Regions from separate parts of the Homo sapiens genome. Here region 1 is linked to region 2. The links come from fine-mapping of genetic effects on gene expression. A gene starts in region 2. The other region holds a variant in brackets. All regions are shown on one strand. Distances are between the middles of the regions. Region 1 overlaps LCMT1 (leucine carboxyl methyltransferase 1). Region 2 holds the start of AQP8 (aquaporin 8).

Evidence for each region. PIP is the estimated chance that this variant, and not a neighbour inherited with it, causes the effect. A credible set is the group of variants that fine-mapping cannot tell apart.
Region 1: its variant is the best candidate, but not a certain one, in a credible set for the expression of AQP8 in whole blood (TOPMed, PIP 0.65).

Annotation. Positions count from the first base shown.
Region 1 is chr16:25,174,235-25,184,323 of GRCh38, forward strand. LCMT1 (leucine carboxyl methyltransferase 1) reads left to right here. Exons shown (of 11, transcript NM_016309.3): 10 at 703-800; 11 at 3,767-3,994. The coding sequence ends at 3,789. Among named protein-coding and RNA genes, the nearest start is that of LCMT1-AS2, 30 kb to the left of the region's middle. The variant A/C (reference allele first, on the strand shown) is at 3,984.
Region 2 is chr16:25,211,392-25,221,831 of GRCh38, forward strand. AQP8 (aquaporin 8) reads left to right here and starts at 5,556. Exons shown (of 6, transcript NM_001169.3): 1 at 5,556-5,666; 2 at 5,807-6,054; 3 at 10,066-10,192. The coding sequence starts at 5,655.

The DNA of each region.
Region 1 (10,089 bases), 37 kb before region 2:
ACATTTAAAAGGCTTTTTGGGAAAAGTCATACATGCATATAATTTTTTACAAAACCAAAATGAAGTAGTATAGAGTAAAAACAACCCTCCTCACTACTGGTCTACTACCTTCTCTCTTAAGAGACAACTACCATTTCTAGTTTCTTCTGTATTTTCCAAAAGTCTGTACATATACAGACAAATTTGTCTCACTTTTTCTTTACATAGAGAGTGGTGTAATATGCACATTACTTGCTTTTTAAATTACGCAACTTGCTTTTTAAATTCCATGATATATATGTCTTGGAGGTTATTGCATATTAATACGTATGGACCTACCCCATTTTTAAAAATGGCTGCATAGTGTCCTGTTTTGACAGTATGAATCTGCTTCAATTTACTCTGCCTGTCTCCTCCAGTTGCCACTAGTTTTTCTTACTGAAGTTTAACAGCTCTTTATATAATAAGGAACTCAGCCCTTTGCCACTTGAATTGCAAATATATGTTTCTAGTTTGGCATTTGTATTTTGACTTTGTTTATGGTATTTTTTCTTCTTTTCAGTGAAAAGACATTAAAATGGAGCCACACCATAATTACTATTTTATAGCCGCCTTCTTTCCACTTAATCTATCATAAACATTTTTTCATATCCGTAGCTATGGGCCATGATCTTCATTTTCAATGCAGACACTTGCATCGTTCTATTTTAATTCTTTCCACAGGATAGAATCACTTGAATTCCTGGATGAAATGGAGCTGCTGGAGCAGCTCATGCGGCATTACTGCCTTTGCTGGGCAACCAAAGGAGGAAATGAGCTTGGTGCGTGATTGTACTTTTCTTGCCTTGACCTGGAAATAGTGAACTTTTCTTTTTCCTATTCTTTCCCTTTCTCTTTCTGTTTTTTGTCTTCCCTCTTTCTCTCTCTGTCCCTTCTTTCTTGTTTTGAGACAGGGTCTCGCTCTGTCACCCAGGCTAGAGTGCAGTGGCACGGTCATAGCTCATTGCAGCCTTCAATTCCTGGGCTCAAGTGATCCTCCTGCCTCCTGAGTAGCTGGGACTACAGGAGCCTGGCTAATTTTCTGTAGAGGTCTCTCTAAGGCTGGTCTTGAATTCCTAGCCTCAAGTAGGCTGGGCGCGGGGTCTCACACCTGTAATCCCAGCACTTTGGGAGGCTGAGGTGGGCAGATCACTTGAGGTCAGGAGTTTGAGACCAGCCTGGCCAACATGATGAAACCCCGTCTCTACTAAAAATACAAAAAAAAAAAAAATAGCCAGGCGTGGTGGCAGGCACCTGTAATCCCAGCTACTTGGGAGGCTGAGGCAGGAGAATCACTTGTACCTGGGAGGTGGAGGTTGCAGTGAGCCGAGACTGCACCATTGCACTCCAGCCCGGGCAAGAAGAGCGAAACCCTGTCTCAAAAAATAAATAAATAAAGAATTCCTGGCCTCAAGCAATCCTCTTGCCTCAGCTTCCCAAAGTGCTGGGATTACAGGCATGAGCCACTGTGCCTGGCCGGAACTTTTCTTCTTCCCAAAATGAAAGATGTATTTGGAACTTTGGGCCCAGAAAGAACTAGAGGATGATGTACATGTATCCGTGAGCATATCCAGAGAACTTGCTGTTATATCTTTTGTGCTTTTATAGCACAAAAACCAAGAGAACTGTTTAAGCCTTGTAGCCCAAAACAACCCTTGAGAGATGTACTGTGGAGTTCCCACAGCTGGAAGGTAAAAGAGCTTGAGAGTTTAAAAATCTCTAGAAAAGTAACCGGCGTTTGTCTTTTCCATCCACTTACAACCAGGTTCACTGGATGTTAAACGCACAGATCAGTACATCTTGCTTACAAACCCATGCAGCTAGGGGCTGAATTTTCCCTCTTCTCATTAAGGTGCACATGCCTGTCTGTGGCCGAGTAGGGCCACGGAGAACAGGCGTGGATCTATCTCTGTTTCTTGTTACCTTTGTCCTGGTCCAGCTCCTTTTCAGCTGCCCCCTGCTGGGCTTGCCTCCCCCAGTGGTTAGGCTTTGAGTGTCTCTCCAGCCCGATGGAGGCCACTTTAGATCCCAGTTCCGGCCTTCAGTGGAATAGCTGCCCTTCAAGCTTCCCGCAGATGTAATCCACATGACATGTGGTCACAAGCGGGCAGCTGATCCGAAACAGAACTTGACAGAGGCAAGGACCATTCCCTATGCAAAAATTCCAGGTTGACATGAGACTGATAATCAGCCCCTTTGGACCTGTCATTCCACACAGATTTGCCTAGCTATGCAGCTCAGCCCACACAATCCTTTCACATTTGTTTTGTTTGGTTTTGGTTTTTGTTTTTTTTTGGCTTTTTTTTTTTTTTTTTTTTTTTTTTTTTTGAGATGGAGTCTTGCTCATTGTCCAGGCTGGAGTGCAGTAGCATGATCTCGTCTCACTGCAACCTCCGCCTCCTGGGTTCAAGTGATTCTCCTGCCTCAGCCTCCTGAGTAGCTGGGATTACAGGCGTCCACCACCATGTCCAGCTAATTTCTGTATTTTTGGTAGAGATGGGGTTTCACCATGTTGGCCAGGCTGGTCTCGAACTCCTGACCTTAAGTGATCTGCCTGGCTCGGCCCCCCAAAGTGCTGGGATTATAGGCATGAGCCATTGTGCCTGGCCTTCACATTCCTTTTGGATTTAAAGTCATTTATTGTGAATTGAGCGCAGTGGCTCATGCCTGTAATCCCAGCACTTTGGGAGGCTAAGGCAGGCAGATCACCTGAGGTCAGGAGTTCGAAACCAGCCTGGCCAACATGGTGAAATCCCGTCTCTACTAAAAATACAAAATTTAGCTGGGCGTGGTGGCACATGCCTGTAGTCCCAGCTACTTGGGAGGCTGAGGCAGGAGAATCTCTTGAACCCGGGAGGCAGAAGTTGCAGTGAGCTGAGATGGCACCACTGTACTCCAGCCTGGGCAACAGAGCGCGACTCTGTCTCCAGAAAAAAAAAAAAGTCACTTATTGGGGTATTTGTATGTTATCCTCCTCTTAATTATATTAAAAAATACTTCTTAGTAGGAAACTTAAAAGCTTCTAAAAAGTATGACTAAGAAAATCCACCTGTATGCCTGTCAGTCAGAGATGACCTCTTGTGACTTTTCCCTTCCCCTCTATTTCTAAATAGTGTTTTGTTTGTTTTTATAATAAGAGTTGAATTTTTATATTTATGCAACTTTGATTTCAAGTGTTTTCAATTTAATGTTATAACATTAGCATTTCCCCCTGGCAATTAAAAATGCTCAATGAGCATAATTGTAATGGCTTTATAATATTGTATTATGTCACTATGGCTGAATTAATATTTCCATATTTTTGGAAATGTAGGTTATTTGTAATACTTTTAAGTGAACTCTAGTTCTCACAAAGGAACAATATATTGAGCATTTTAATGTCAGGAATTTACTTTGTCCCCACTGACCCGTGACTGCTTTGGGACATCAGTGCTTGTCTGTGTGTGTGGAAGATCCGTATCTGCCTTTGCTCAAAGTTCAGCACATAAAGGGTAGATTTTTGGCGTTAACTGCAGACAGTCCATAAACTGTTATAATGTTTTCTTAATCATTTTAAAACCACCCATAAACACAGTCTTACCCAACCTTTTGTTTCCTTGCGAAACCTCATTTTATGTAGCAGGAGGGCGGTGCTACAGTGGTCAGCAGTGTGGCTGGTGCCCCTGAGCCGGTCACTGGGGGTCCTCTAGGGGCCTCTGCTCCTGGCCACCAGAGTCTCCTAATGGTGTCTGTGTGTCTCTCCCCTCAGGGCTGAAGGAGATAACTTATTAATCTGTCGAAGGCTTATGCCGAGCCAGAAGCCGAAGCCACTTGCCCTCCTGGAGGAGACCTGCAAGCTCCCTGAGCGGTGGGCGGGCCTCGTCCGCAGGTCTCATCCCACACTCTTGAGAAGCCTTGGTCACTACAGTGGTCGCACATGTTCCTCTTCCTGTTCCTGTTGACATGTCGTTGTTTAAATAAATCTC[A/C]CTTGCCACCAGTCGCCTGTGGTTGGACCTCTGCTGGCTGCCGCTGCTCGTTCCGTGCCCCATGGCTTGGGCGGGCCAGGGTTCACCTCTGTGTTAGCTAAAGCCAAGGACCCCAAGTCTGCTTTGACCTTGGCTTACTCCCTGTGAGTCACACCCGGCCCATGACCTTGAGTCCATTTTAGGATCTACTCCCTCACATGCTGTTTGTTGCAGCACATGACATTGTGCCTCACTCCCTGACCCTTGTCCTCCACCAGATGTGAGGCTAGTGCTCTTCTCGGGCTCCTGTCTCCGCCCTGGCCACACTGGCCTGCTCAGTTGCCTCCTTCATCTTGGTCATGGTGGCAGGCTGAAGAATGGCCCCTAAAGTGTCCATGTCCTGATCCCCAGAACCTGTGAGTGTGTGTTACCTTCTGTGGCAAAGGGGCTTTGCAAATGGGATTAGGGGTTTGAGATGAAGAGGTGGTCCTGGGTTATCCAGGTGGGCCTGATAGGATCACGGGGTCCTCATTAGAGGGACAGACGAGGCGTCAGAGTCAGAGGGGCCCAGACAAGAAGCAGGGGCAACCAGGGGATGCTACCTAGGGCAATAGCAGCAGACCCTCCCTTGGCCTCCAGCTGGAACTGCCTGCCAACACCTTGATGTTAGCCCAGAGAAATCGATTTCAGATTTCTCACCTCCAGAGCCGTAAGAGAATACATCTGTGGTGGTGGTTTTTTTTTTTTTTTTTTCTTTTTTTTAGATGGAGTCTTGCTCTGTTGCCCAGGCTTGGAGTGCAGTGGCGCGATCTCGGCTCACTGCACCCTCTGCCTCCCGGGTTCAAGTGATTCTTCCGCCTCAGCCTCCCAAGTAGCTGGGATTACAGGTGCATACCATCATGCCTGTCTAATTTTTGTATTTTTAGTGGAGATAGAGTTTCACCATGTTGGCCAGGCTGGTCACGAACTCCTGACCTCAAGTGATCCGCCCGTCTTGGCCTCCCAAAGTGCTGGGATTACAGGCATGAGCCTCTGTGCCCAGACTGATCTGTGGTGTTTTGAGCCACCAAGTTGGGGGCTTAAACTTACAGCCACAACTAGAAGTCAATGCAGTTATGAGACAGGTTCATAGGGCCCCTGAGTGATGACCTCATATTTCAGAAACATAAGGCTTGTCCCATACCTGTCTGCTGAACTCCCTGAGTGATGGGTAGACCTTGTCTACAGGGACTTCTTAAGTTATGTGACTGGCGCTGCGAGCCTGAACCTGCATGTGCAGGGTGGCACTGCAGAAGTCCCCAGCGCTCTCCTCTGCTGGAGAGGTAACAGCCTCTCTTCTACCATTCAGAATCCTTAAATCAGTGTCCCCTAGAGTGTGGGCCCTGCACCTCTAGTGGCATGCCAGTTGATGGGATGTGTTCCTATCAATAAATACCTGTGATAAAATGTATAAATTAGGTGCAGTAAGACTAGCAACAATTTAAAAAAGAACAACTATAGCAATATGTTAAGGTTATGTGAATGTGGTCTTTGAAGATATCTTAACTGGCCGAGTGCAGTGGTGCACGCCTGTAATCCCAGCACTTGGGGAGGCCAAGACAGGTGGATCCTGAAGTCAGGAGTTCGAGACCAGCCTGGCCAACATGGTGAAACCCCCCCCCCACCGCCCCGCCGCCTGTAATTCCAGCTCTTTGGGGGGCTGAGATGGGCAGATCACAAGGTCAGGAGTTCAAGACCAGCCTGGCCAACATGGTGAAACCCTGTCTCTACTAAAAATACAAAAAAAAAAAAAAAAAAATCCGGGCTTGGTGGCAGGCATCTGTAAGGCAGGAGAATTGCTTGAACCCAGGAGGCAGAGGTTGCAGTGAACCGAGATTGCGCCACTGCACTCCAGCCTGGATGACAGAGCAAGACTCCATCTTGGAAAAAAAGAAAATATCTTAGCTATACTCACTTATTTTTGGACCTCAACTGACCTCAGGTAACGGAAACCTTGGAAAACAAAACCACAGGAAAGGGGTAACTCTGGTATATGTATAGCATTAGCAGAAACAATGTTTACTTTTTTTATTGAGACGGAGTCTTGCTCTGTCACCTAGCCTGGAGTGCAGTGGCGCGATCTCAGCTCACTGCAAGCTCCACCTCCCGGATTCACGCCATTCTCCTGCCCCAGCTTCCCAAGTAGCTGGGACTACAGGAGCCCGCCACCATGCCCAGCTAATTTTTTTTGTGTTTTTAGTAGAGATGGAGTTTCACCACGTTAGGCAGGATGGTCTCTATCTCCTGACCTCGTGATCCACCTGCCTCGGCCTCCCAAAGTGCTGGGATTACAGGCGTGAGCCGCCGTGCCTGGCCCCACAATGTTTACTTTTTGTTGTTGTTGTTTTCAGAAAGGGTCTTGCCCCATCTCCCAGGCTGGAGTGCAGTAGTGCAGTCATAGCTCTCTGCAGCCTCAACCTCCTTGGGCTCAAGTGATCCTCCTTCCTCAGCCTCCTGAGTAACTGAACCACAGGCACACACCAGCAAGCCTGGCTATTTTTAACTTTTTTTGTGGAGACAGGGTCTCCCTATGTTGCCAGGGGTGGTCTTGAACTCGGGTTCAAGTGATCCTCCCATCCGTCCTATTCCAAATTTGATATTGAAATTAGGCCAGTTAATAACCCTACAATGGCCTCTACATGCTCAAGTGAAAGGAAGAGTCACAAAGAGTCACATGCCTTTCACTTTAAATCAAAGCTGGAAATGATTAAGCTTGGTGAGGAAGGCACGTCAAAAGCTGAAATAGGGTCGGCTGTGGTGGCTCATGCCTGTAATCCCAGCACTTTGGGAGGCCGAGGTGGGCGGATCACCTGAGGTCAGGAGTTTGAGACCAGCCTGGCCAACATAGTGAAACCTCATCTCTACTAAAAGTACAAAAATTAGCCTGGTGTGGTGGCAGGCGCCTGTAGTCCCAGCTACTTGGGAGTTTGAGGCAGGAGAATCGCTTGAACCTGGGAGGCAGAGGTTGCAGTGAGCGAAGATGGCACCACTGCACTCCAGCCTGGGTGACAGAGTGAGACTCCATCTGAAAAAAAAAAAAAAAAAAAAAAAAACTGAAATAGGCCGAAAGCTAGACCTCTTGTGCCAAACAGCCAAGTTGTGAATGCAAAGGAAAAGTTCTTGGAGGAAATGAAAAAGTGCTACTCCAGTGAACACATGAATGATAAGAAAGCGAAACTGTATTATTACCGATATGGAGAAAGTTTGAGCGGTCTGTATAGAAGATCAAACCAGCCACAACCTTCCCTTAAGCCAAAGCCTAATCGAGAGCAGGGCCCTAACTCTCTTCAATTATGTGATGGCTGAGAGAGGAGAGGAAGCTGCAGAAGAAAAGTTGGAAGCTAGCAGAGGTTGGTTCCTGAGGTTTAAGGAAAGAAGCCGTCTCCATAACATAAAAGTGCAAGGTGAAGCAGCAGGTGCTGATGGAGAAACTGAAGCAAGTTGTCCAGAAGATCCAGCTGAGATCATTGATGAAGGAAGGTGGCTACACTAAACAACAGATTTTCAATGTAGGCAAAACAGCTTTCTCTTGCAAGAGGATGCCATCTAGGACTTCCAAAGCTAGAGAGGAGAATTCAATGCCTGGCTTCAAAACTTCATAGGAAAGCCTGACTTCTTAGTGTCTAGTATGAAATGCAGCTGGTGACATTAAGTTAAGGTCAGTGCTTATTTACCATTCTGAAAATCCTAGGGCCCTTAAGAATTATGCTAAATCCACTGGGTGCAGTGGGTCATGCCAAGGCAGGCGGATTGCTTGAGGCCAGGAGTTCGAAACTAGCCGAGCCAACATGGTGAAACCCCATCTTTACTAAAAAATACAAAAATTAGCTGGGTGTGGTGGTGCATGCCTGTAGTCCCAGCTACTTGGGAGGCTGAGGCACGAGGATTGCTTGAACCTGGGAGGTGGAAGTTGCACTGAAGCAAGATTGTGCCACTGCACTCCGGTTTGTGTGACAGAGTGAGACTCTGTCTCAAAAAAAAAAAAAAAAGGTGCCAAATCTGTGTGCTATAGAAATGGAACAACAAAGCCCAGGTGACAGCACATCTGATTACGGTGTGGTTTACTGAGTATTTTAAGGCCATTGTTGACACCTACTACTGAGAAAAAAAATTACTTTCAAAATATTATTGCTTATTGACAGTGCACCTGGTCACCAAAGAACTCTGACAGAGATGTGCAAGGCGATGAATGCTGTTTTCATGCATGCTGACACAACATTCATTCTGCAGCCCCACGGATCAAGGAGTAATTTTGACTTTCAAGTCTTACTATTTAGAAATGTATTTTGTAAGGCCAGGTGCAGTGGCTCACGCTTGTAATCCCAGCACTTTGGGAGGCCGAGGTGGGTGGATCACAAGGTCAAGAGTTCCAGACCAGCCTGGCCAATATGGTGAAACCCCGTCTCTACTAAAAATACATAAATTAACCCGGCGCAGTGGCGGGCGGCAGTAGTCCCAGCTACTTGGGAGGCTGAGGCAGGAGAATCGCTTGAACTTGGGAGGCAGAGGTTGCAGTGAGCCAAGATCACGCCACTGCACTCCAGCCTGGGCGACAGAGTGAGACTCCATCTCAAAAAAAAAAAAAATAATAATGAAATACATTTTGTAAGGCTGTAGCCACCATAGGTAGTGATTTCTCTGATGGATCTGGGTAAAGTACATTGGAAACCTTCTGAAAAGGATTCACCATTCTAGATGCCATTAAGAACATTAGTAGCCGAGCACGGTGGCTCATGCCTGTAACCCCAGCACTTTGGGAGGCCGAGATGGGCAAATCATTTGAGGTCAGGAGTTCAAGACCAGCCTGGCCAACATGGTGAAACCCCCTTCTCTACTAAAAATGCAAAAATTAGCCGGGTGTGGTGGGACATGCCTGTAATCCCAGCTATTGAGGAGGCTGAGGCAGGAGAATTGCTTGAGCCCGGGAGGCGGAGGTTGCAGTGAGCCGAGATCACGCCATTGCGCTCCAGCCTGGGCCACAGAGCTAGACTCCGTCTCAAAAAAAAAAAAAAAAAAAAAATTAGTAATGCATGGGAGGAGGTCGAAATATCAACCTTAATGGGTTTGGATGAAGTTGATTCCAGCCCTCATGGATGATTTTGAGGCATTTAAGACTTCAGTAGAGGAAGGAATTGCAGATGTGGTGGAAATAGCAAGGTAACTAGAATTAGGAATGGAGCATAAAGATGTGACTGAATTGCTGCAATCTCATGATCAGACTTCAACGGATGAGGAATTGCTACTTATGAATGAGCAGAGAAAGTGGTTTCTTGAGATAGAATCTACTCCTACATCCTTGAAGATGCTGTGAACATTGTTGAAATGACAATAAGGGATTTAAGATGTTACACAAATTTAGTTGATAAAGCAGCAGCAAAGTTTAAAAGGAATGACTCCAATTTTGAAAGAAGTTCTACTGTGAGTAAAATGCTGTAAAACAGCCTCTCTCGCCACAGAAATCTTTCGGGAAAGGAAGAGTCAACCAATGAGGCAAACTTCATTGTTGTCTGCACAGCCATTCACTGATCTTTCAGTAACCACCACCCTGCTCAACCAGCAACCATCAACATCAAAGCAAGACTCTCCACCAGCCAAATGATGATGACTTGCTGAAGGCTCAGATGATCATTAGCATTTTTAAAGCAATAACGTATTTTTAAAGTAAGGCATGCACATCTTAAAGACATAATACTATTGCACACGTAATAGAATACAGTATAGCATAAACATAACATTTATATGCACTGGGAAACCAAAAAATTCATGTGATATTCACTTTATTGAGATGATCTGGAACTAAACCTGCAATATCTCTCAGATATTCCTGTACGTGAAATCTTTCGAAAGAACAATATTTGTTCTTTTTTTCTTTTCTTTTCTTTTCTTTTTCTTTTTCTTTTTTTTTTTTTTTGAGATGGAGTCTTGCTCTTGTTGCCCAGGCTGGAGTACAATGGTGCGATCTCTGCTCACTGCAACCTCCGCCTCCCAGGCTCAAGCGATTCTCCTGCCTCAGCCTCCCGAGTAGCTGGGACTACAGGTGCACAACACCGCACCCAGCTAATTTTTGTATTTCCAGTAGAGACGGGGT
Region 2 (10,440 bases):
GTATTTTTTTTTTTTTTTTTTTTTTTTTTTGAGACGGAGTCTCGCTCTGTCACCCAGGCTGGAGTGCAGTGGCGGGATCTCGGCTCACTGCAAGCTCCGCCTCCCGGGTTCATGCCATTCTCCTGCCTCAGCCTCCCAAGTAGCTGGGACTACAGGCGCCCGCCACTACGCCCAGCTAATTTTTTGTATTTTTAGTAGAGACGGGGTTTCACCGTTTTAGCCGGGATGGTCTCGATCTGCTGACCTCGTGATCCGCCCGCCTCGGCCTCCCAAAGTGCTGGGATTACAGGCGTGAGCCACCGCGCCCGGCCTAATGTCTGTATTTTTAATAGAGACGGGGTTTCACTATATGGCCAGGCTGGTCTCAAACTCCTGACCTCAGGTAATGAACCTGCCTCGGCCTCCCAAAATGGTGGGATTACAAGGGTGAGCCACTACATCTGGCCTATATATACGGTCCAAGATGGCTGCCACAGCAGCAGCGTCACATCTGGCACAACAGTGCAGCCATCAAGGCAAGAGAGAAGGGAAAGGTGAGATGCCAGGGTAAAATGTGACCTGTTTCTACACTCCATCTGGACCTGGTGGGGGATGGCAGACAGGTATAGATGCAGAGAAGTCTTGCCAACCAAACAGGGATAAAGATTAGAAGCCTTGGTCCTGTTAACCAGACCTGGATTTGGAAAACTAGGAAGTTTGCCAGCCAAAGAATTTTTTAGGAAGACAGTATCTCCTTAGCCCACTAGGTTTTTCAGTGGTTTTGAGAGACAGTATATTGTGTATGAGGACATCAGGACATACTCTAAAACTCTCATGTAGTGGAAATATGTTGTTTTGTCTGAATGGCATTCAGGTTTTCCCTGGAAGCCACTAGTTTTCTTTTTCTTTCCTTTTTTTTTTCTTTTTTTAATTAAGACGGACTCTTGCTCTGTTGCCAAGGCTGGAGTGCAGTGGTGCAATCTTGGCTCACTGCAATCTCCACCTCCCGTGTTCAAGCAATTCTCCTGCCTCAGCCTCCTGAGTAGTTGGGACTACAGGCGCGTGCCACCATGCCCGGCTAATTTCTTGTATTTTTAGGAGAGATGGGGTTTTACTGTGTTAGCCAGGATGGTCTCGATCTCCTGACCTTGTGATTCACCCGCCTTGGCCTCCCAAAGTGCTGGGATTACAGGCATGAGCCGCTGCACTGGCCTAGTTTTGGAGTTATGGAATCCAACCTTGCCTTGAGCAAGGGAAGGGTGTTTTTAGAGGACCAATAGGTAGTTTGCCCAGGCATCAGAGAGGACATAATATCTGATCTGAGATCTGAATGAGGAGTAGAAGTTGGCCAAGAGGGCAAACAAGGACTCCAAACAGAGGGACTGGCATGGACAAGGCCGGGTGAGGGTACATAGCTTATCTGATAAATTGTTTAGGGTTCATGTGGCAAGAGATGATTCAGGGGCTAGGAACTGAAGTCTCTGTGGCTAGCTAAGGGAGTCTGGGTTTGTCTTGGAACCATGGGACACACTGAATGATTTAATTCAGGGAAAAACTCAACTAGAACCATGGTCTCTGGGAAAGCAACAATTTCTAGTATGTGGCAGAAATTGCTCGATATTCATAAAATGCCTTTCTTTTTCCTCCTGGGCACAGGGCTAGACTACAATTCCCAGGCTCGATTGCAGTCAGGTGAAGCCACGTGACTGAGTTTGAGCCCATCAAATATAGGTGAGAGGGATATATGGTATTTCTAGGCCTAGCCCATAATAATTTCCTGCACAGCCCTCCACATTCTCTTTTTCCCATTTTGCTGGAGAAGATCTGAGGACCTAGATGGGGCAGCTCCAAGATGGAAGTGGCCTGGATCCCTGAGTCACCATTTGGAGACGAGCCTGTCATGGACTATTATGTGAGCAAAGAATCCATTTTTTGGGGGGTGGGGGGGTGGGATGGAGTGTCGCTCTGTGGCCCAGGCTGGAGTGCTGTGGTGTGATCTCGGCTCGCTGCAACCTCCGTCTTCCAGGTTCAAGCGATTCTCCTGCCTCAGCCTCCTGAGTAGCTGGGATTACAGGCGTGTGCCACCATGCCCAGCTAATTTTTGTATTTTTGGTAGAGATGGGGTTTCACCATGTTGGTCAGGCTGGTCTTGAACTCCTGACCTTGTGATCTGCCCGCGTTGGCCTCCCAAAGTGCTGGGATTACAGGTGCGAGCCAGTGCATCCAGCTTAGTTTTTCTTTGTTCAAGGGACTAAGCAAGAACAGATGAAGGCATGGGTGAAAACAAGAGAGAATTATTCTGGAAGCAGTACTGGCAGGATTTGAGCAAATAATGAGGGGGATGGGGAAGCCTTGGGTCAGACTATCTTATGTTGCTATTTATAGGATGTGGAAGGAAGGGTCTAAGAAACATCTTGTATGATGTGCTGTGGGATATGGAGGAGGTAGAGAACAGGGCTAAAAATAACCTTCCTAGAGGTGCAGATATTTGGCAGAGACCCTGTATTCCTGGGCCTCTCGCTGACATGGGCTGTCAACAAACTGTCACGCTCTTCTCTAGATATGTCCACTTCTGTCCTGAAGCAGATATTTTTATGTACACAGCCATGGGTGAGTTCTTAACTTCTTTGTGCCTCGTTTTTATCATCTGAAGATGGTGATAATAAGTGATAGGACTTATCTCAAAGGGGTTTACGAATATATACCGAGTGTTTAGCATGGTGTTGGAGATGTAGTGAGTAGTTGAGAAATGTCAGAAATGAGCATTAAAATTCCGTTAGCTCTAGCTTGACTTCTCTATCAGTGCATACAAACACTCAAAGATAAAGCTATGAGACAGAGCAGGATTTTGCCTGTCTTGTTCACTGCTACATCTCCAGCCAGCTTAGAACAGTGACTGGCTTGCAGCAGCTATTTAAATGTTTGGTGAGTGAATGAATGAATAAGGAACTCATCTCATTTTCTTTCCTTCCTCCTTCCTTTCTCCCTTCCTTCCTCCCTCCCTTCCTTTCTTTCTTCCCTTCTTTCCAACCATCCATCCATCCATCCATCCATTCATCCATCCACCCACCCATCTATCCATCCATCCATCCATCCATCCATCCATCCACCCACCCACCCACCCAACCATCTATCTATCCATCCATCCATCCACCCATCCATCCATGCATCCACCCATCCATCCACTTATCCATCCATCCATCCATCCATCCATCCATCCATCCATCCATCTCTCTTAGAAAGGCAGTAGAGTGTAGTGGGTTAGCTCACAAGTATTTTTTTTCAATTGTGGCAAGATACACATAAAATAAAATATGCCATTTTAACCTTTTTTTTTTTGAGATGGAGTCTCATCCTCTCACCCAGGCTGGAGTGTAGTGGTGTGATCTCAGCTCACTACAACCTCTGCCCCCCAGGTTCAAGCGATTCTCCTGCCTCAGCTTCCCAAGTAGCTGGGATTACAGGCGTGCACCACCACACCCAGCCAATTTTTGTATTTTTAGTAGAGACAGGGTTTCACCATGTGGCCAGACTGGTGTCAAACTCCTAAAATCAAGTGATCCTCCTGCCTTGGTCTCCCAAAGTGCTGAGATTACAGGTGTGAGCCAAGCACACCCAGCATTTGGAACCATTTTTAAGTGTACATTTCAGTGACATTAAGTACTTCACATTGTTGTGCCACTGTATCATCCATCCCAAAACTTTCCTCCCAAACAGGAAATCTGTACCCGCTAAACACAAACTCTTCATTCTCCCTTCCCCTCGGGCCGTGGAAACCACCATTCTACTTCTGTCTCTATGAATTTGACTAGTCTAGGTACTTCATACAAGTGGAATCAGATACAGTATTTATCCTTTTGTGACAGCCCACAAGTTCTGTGATCATATAAGCTGTGTAATCTTGGGAAACTCAATCTTCCTGACACTCCACTTCCTCGTCTGTGAAATGGTTGTAATAATAGTACCTGCTTCACAGGGTGGCAGTGAGGTTTAAATGAGATAATAGAAGGCACTTAGCCCCAGTGCCTGGCACATAGAAAGTGCTCACTATTAGCTATTAGTTACAGCTAAGCATGTATTGTAAATTAGTGGACACTGGTATTGTGTGTCTAGCACTGTCCTGAGCACTTTACCCGTATTATCTCATTTAAACTTCCCAACGACCCTATGACATGGTGAAACCACTAACATCCACACCTAACAGATGAGAAAACAAAGGCCCAGAGAGGCCAAGTCATGTGCCCAAGGGTTACATAGCTAGTTTACAGCAGAGCTGGGATTGAACGCCAGGCAGCCTATTTCCAAAGTTCATGGGTCTTGCCGCTGCATTGCATTACCTCTTGCCAGTCTCTGCTGCCTCTGTCTGTGAAGGATCGTCATCTATACACTCAGTCCTGGCTCAGGCTGTCACGGTGACTGCAGGTGTTTGAAGCTGTGGGACTCATTGGAAAAATAATTGAAAATGGGATTGCTGTTTCTTTCTTTTCTTTTTTCTTTCTTTCTTTCTTTTTTTTTTTTTTTTTTTTAGACAGGGTCTCACTCTGAGGCTGAAGTGCAGTGGCGCGATCTTGGCTCACTGCAACCTCTGGGTCCTGGGTTCAAGTGATTCTCATGCCTCATCCTCCTGAGTAGCTGGGATTACAGGCAAACACCAACACGCCCTCTCTTTCTTTCTCCTTCCTTCCTTCTTTTCTTTCTTTTTCTTTTTTCTTTCTTTCTTTCTTTCTTTCTTTCTTTCTTTCTTTCTTTCTTTCTTTCCTTCCTTCTTTTCTTTCTTTCTTTTTCTTTCTTTTTCTTTCTTTCTTTCTTTCTTTCTTTCTTTCTTTCTTTCTTTCTTTCTTTCTTTTTCTTTCTTTCTTTCTTTCTTTCTTTCTTTCTTTCTTTCTTTCTTTCTTTCTTTCTTTTCTTTCCTTTCTTTCTTTCTCTGTCTTTCTTTCTTCTTTCTCTTTCCTTTTTTTTTTTTTTCAGAGCCTTGCTCTGTTGCCCAGGCTGGAGTGCAGTTGCACAATCTTGGCTCTGCGCAATCTTCGTCTCCCAGGTTCAAATGATTTTCCTGCCTTAGCCCCCCAAGTAGCTGGGATTACAGGCGTGCACCACCACGCCCGGCTGAGTTTTGTATTTTTAGTAGAGACGGGGTTTCACCGTGTTAGCCAGGATGGTCTCAATCTCCTGACCTCGTGATCCACCTGCCTCGGCCTCCCAAAGTGCTGGGATTACAGGCGTGAGCCACTGCACCTGGCTGTTTGCTGTTTCTTAACATGTGAGGTTCCAACCCAGTGGGGCCCACTAACATGTGCTGTTCTGCTTTGGACCGTGGGGAGCTGGGGTGCTGGACCCATCTCCCACCTTCTACAGCCTGGAGTGTGCTCCCAGATGACACAGCCAAGCTGGCGTGTTTTTCCCTCACTGGCGGAAAGTTCAGCAATCCCTGACTCCCTCACCCTGCCCTGTTGAGATTTAAAAAAATTTCCTCTTCTGGGCCTCAGAGCCGCCTCCTACCTGAGGTTTATTGCTTTCTCTGCACCAGCATTGAGCCTCTGCAGCCCTTTAAAAGGGGCAGAGCCCATAGTGTGATCAGCAGGTCCTGTCCCTAGGAGATAAGAGTATCTTGCACAGCAGGTGCAGGTTTCCCAGCAGCTCAGGCAAGAGTCCGATGTTTGTGCCATCTGATCCTGATGTCTGGAGAGGTGAGCCCTCTGTCGGCATCTTCCTCTCCAGGCTGGCAGAGCAAGGGGGGCTGTGAATTAATTCAAGGTTGGGGGTCGGGGCCTTCTATATCTGGACTTGCCTCCCACCCGTGTCCTCTGTCCCTTTTTCCCTACGGCAGATAGCCATGTGTGAGCCTGAATTTGGCAATGACAAGGCCAGGGAGCCGAGCGTGGGTGGCAGGTGGCGAGTGTCCTGGTACGAACGGTTTGTGCAGCCATGTCTGGTCGAACTGCTGGGCTCTGCTCTCTTCATCTTCATCGGGTGCCTGTCGGTCATTGAGAATGGGACGGACACTGGGCTGCTGCAGCCGGCCCTGGCCCACGGGCTGGCTTTGGGGCTCGTGATTGCCACGCTGGGGAATATCAGGTGAGACCAGCTCTGAGGATTCAGCCTGATGCTGACTTGGGGCACTGGGTGTGGAAAGCAAAGGCGTTGTCAAGGACCCCTGGGCGCATACGTATTCGGGATTTCAAGGAGCGCTCTGGATAACTATGGGGTTGGGAGTCAGACTGGGGTCAACTCCAGACCCCGCAGCCTGTGAGCTTGTGACTTTGAGCAAGTCATTCTCTTTTTGAGTAGCTGGATCACAGGCATGCGCCGCAGCACCCAACTAATTTTTAAATTTTGTTGTAGAGATGGGGTCTCACTATGTTGCCCAGGCTAGTCTTGAACTCCTGGTCTCAAGCGATCCTCCTGCCTTGGCTTCCCAAAGTTTTGGGATTACAGGCATGAGACACCATGCCTGGCTGGCAAGTTACTCTCTAAACCCAAAGTTCCCCGCCTATAAAATGGGAATAGTAGCTTTTAAATGTTTTTTTTTTCAAGCCAACATATCTATATTGCTAACCATGTACCAGGCACTAGTCTAATTACTTTATAGATATTAGTTATTTAATCCTCACAAAAGCCTTGTGGGGTAGGTCCTGTTATTAGCCCCATTGTACAGCTGCAAAAGTGAAAGGCCATGTAATCTGTCCAAGCTTAGAGGGCCAGAAAGTGGCAGAGGCGGGAGTCAAGAACAAGCTGTCTGGCTCCAGCGCTCAAATCCAAGTGCCTCATGCGGAAGTCATGAGAATTAAATGAAGTAGAGCGCCTGGCACACACCAAACATACAACAGGCATTGGTTGCTGTGTTATTGTTACCACTAGAAGGGGGTTTTAGGGAAAGCAGAAATGCATAGAAGACCTGAGCCAGGTTTTCCCACCTGGGTATGCAGAGATCTGCAGTGGTCCTGGCTTGTCAAGAGGTGATCAAGAAGGAGGGGCAGGGAAAGGGACAGGCTTCTCTGGCTTAGCTCTCGTCTGGGTAGAGGCTCAATGGGGAGGTCTGTGGACATGGCTGCTGGTTCCCAGGAGAGCCAGCCATCACGACGAAGATCTTGAGTGGGGTGCCTGGCAGGGTGATCTGGGACATGGTTGGTCTGTATTAAATCTCACTCAAAAAATAGATCTGAATGAGGAAACAGAAATACTATTTCTGAGAAAACCAGAATGGAAAAGAGCTTTAACATCTCTTTAGGCCGGGTGCAGTGGCTCACGCCTGTAATCCCAGCACTTTGGGAGGCTGAGGCGGGTGGATCACCTGAGGTCAGGAGTTGGAGAGCAGCCTGGCCAACAGGGTGAAACCCTGTCTCTACTAAAGATACAAAAATTAGCTGGGCGTGGGGGCAGGCACCTGTGGTCCCAGCTACTTCGGAGGCTGAGGCAGGAGAATTGCTTGAACTGGGAGGGAGAGGTTGCAGTGAGCCGAGATTGTGCCACTGCACTCCAGCCTGGGCAACAGAGTGAGACTCCATCTCCAAAAAACAAACAAACAAACAAACAAACAAAAAACAAACCACATCTCTTTAGACGTCCAAGGGAGGCTGCAAGTGAAACAAAAAGTACATGATCTTCCCTTTGGACGGATCTGAGATTGAAGGCAACCTTTATCACTTCTTAGCAGGGTGACCACAGCAAGTTGCTGAAGCCTCTGTGTGCAGTGGTATAAATATGAGTAATAATAATAGCTGATGTTTTTTGAATGCTAACTACATAGATACTACTATGGGCTGTACAAATATTAATTCTTAATATCTTTGCAATAGCTTTATCAGGCAGAGATCATTGAGGCACAGAGAGGTTATGTAACTTTGCCAATGCCACACAGCTCTTCAGTGGCAGAGTTGAGCTTTGAACCCAGGCCAGCTGGCTGGAAAGACCATCTCTTTGGCACTGCAAATACTGCCTCTCTGTTTGGCTTTTTTGACAAATATTTATTCAGCACCTATTGCGTGCCAGACACTGACTTTGAGGTTGTTCACTGGATCCAGGATAAGCTATGTATGTAAGTTATAAGCACCCAGCACAGCCCCTGGCACACAGTAAGTGTCAGAGAAATATATGCTGAGTGAACAATGAATGAATGAATGAATGTGTCTTGATTGTTTTATTGCTAATGAGTGTAAACCAGGAAATGTGTGGTTTTCGTCACCTGGCCCTCCTGATAGAGCCATGCTCTGGGTGACAGTTTCTCTCCCCTTTGGGGCTCCCCTGGGAAGCCGCCTCACCCTGACTTCATCTGTGTATCTCAGCAGAGCCCAGGCTAAGCTACTTGAGGCCAAGTAGGCCTGGCTGCCCCTCTTCCCAACCTGTGGAGTCTGAGCACTGGCTGGTGCTTTCAAACCATGCATGGAGGTCAGGCGCAGTGGCTCACGCCTGTAATCCCAGCACTTTGGGAGGCCGAGGCAGGTGAATCACCTGAGGTCAGGAGTTCGAGACCAACCTGGCCAACATGGTGAAACCCCGTCTCTACCAAAAATACAAAAATTAGCCGGGCGTGGTGGCAGCCCCGTTATCCCATCTACTTGGGAGGCTGAAGCAGAAGAATCGCTTGAAACCAGGAGGCGGAGGTTGCAGTGAGCCGAGATTGCACCATTGCACTCCAGCCTGGGTGACAAAGGGAGACCCTGTCTCAAAAAAAAAAACAAAAAACAAAAAACAAATCAAATCAAACCGTGCATGGAGCTTATCTGAGGGCCTGGGCCCAGAGCTGAGCCAGACAAGTTGGGGTAGCTGGTCTCGAGCTATCAGGGTGTTGGACAAAGTCCTTTTGGGCAGAGCTGAGGTCCTCTGCCCAGTCTCAACTGAATGTCCTATGTCCTTTGGAGGATGGGTAAGCTCATTGGTGGGCTCTTTACATTAGGGGGGCACTTTGGTTCTCAAGTGACATGGGGAGTCTTGGGGTCCCTTTCTCTCTCATTGGGGAGTATCCATTCCTGGAAACCAGATGGATTCAGGAGGCCAAACTGTGACAATATTTCCTCCATCAGAGTGGGACTGGTTGGGACACTGATGTGAGTGCAGCCACCCTGGCTCTGGGGCCTGGGCTGGTTGAACATCTTGGTGAACACGAAGGCTCTTTACCCATGAGCCAGGGGGTGGCTGATCAACTGCAACCTGCCCTTTGACCTCAGGTTCTGACTTGTCTAATTCCCTTCCACACCCCAAACTCCCAATCCCAATCCCTAACCTGGTCATGAACCTCCAACTCCACCCCGTGATTCTCAATGCCATTTTCAGCCTGAACTCCAAATCTGCATTTTACACCCATCACACTTTCAGACCACAAGTAGGGTTTTCACTGGCTGAGCAGTTCAACCAATCAGGAGGTCTTATTCAGGGCCTAGCTACTCATAAAGGGAGACCCGGGCCGGGCACGGTAGCTCGTGCCTGTAACCCCAGCACTTTGGGAGGCCGACGTGGGTGGATCGCTTGAGGTCAGGAGTTTGAGACCAGCCTGACCAACATGGTGAAACCTCGTCTCTACTAAAAATACAAAAATAAGCCAGGCGTGGTGGCACACACCTGTAGTTCCAGCTACTTAGGAGGCTGAGTCAGAAGAATTGCTTGAACTCAAAAGGTGGAAGCTGCAGTGAGCCGAGATCACACCATTGCACTGCAGCCCGCGCGACAGAGCAAGACTCCGTCTCGTAAAATCAAACAAATCATAAGGGGAGGCCTGGATACCGCTCTTGGGCTACTAACTTGGAGCCTTGGTATCTCAATCTGACCTGTGGCCACATCTCTGAAGGGCTGGAGGGAGGCTTGGAGGGAGTCAGGGAGGAGTTAAGGGATGGTCTCCCTACACGCTCTTCCTCCAGGGCCATCCTGGGGGCTGGGCTTTGGACTTAGAGGCTGCCCTTTATCTCTTACCCTCTGCCTGGCATCTCAGGGAAAATGGAAGCAATTTGGTGCCTCTTTGTATTTGAGCTGGGCCCCGGACTGACTCTTGCCCTGAGAGGCCAGCCTGGTGGGTTGGCTGGGACACACTGTCTCAAGTGCCAGCCATGTGGTCAGCCCTGGGCTCATGACTTCCTCTGCTCTTGTGGGTTACAGTGGTGGACACTTCAACCCTGCGGTGTCCCTGGCAGCCATGCTGATCGGAGGCCTCAACCTGGTGATGCTCCTCCCGTACTGGGTCTCACAGCTGCTCGGGGGGATGCTCGGGGCTGCCTTGGCCAAGGTGGGTAAACCCCAGGGGCTGGGCTAGTCTTCCTCTCTGATGGGGCTGCTGGAGGTGCATATGTGGGTGTGTGTGTGGGACAGTGGGGAGTGGGGAAATGTCCAATCTTTTGCTTGTTTCTGCCAGTGGAATTGGTGGACGTTTTTCTTCTCTCTTTCTTTCTTATTGCATTTTATTGTATTTTTTATTTGTTTGTTTTTTTGAGATGGAGTCTTGCTCTGTCACCCAGGCTGGAGTGCAGTGGCCTG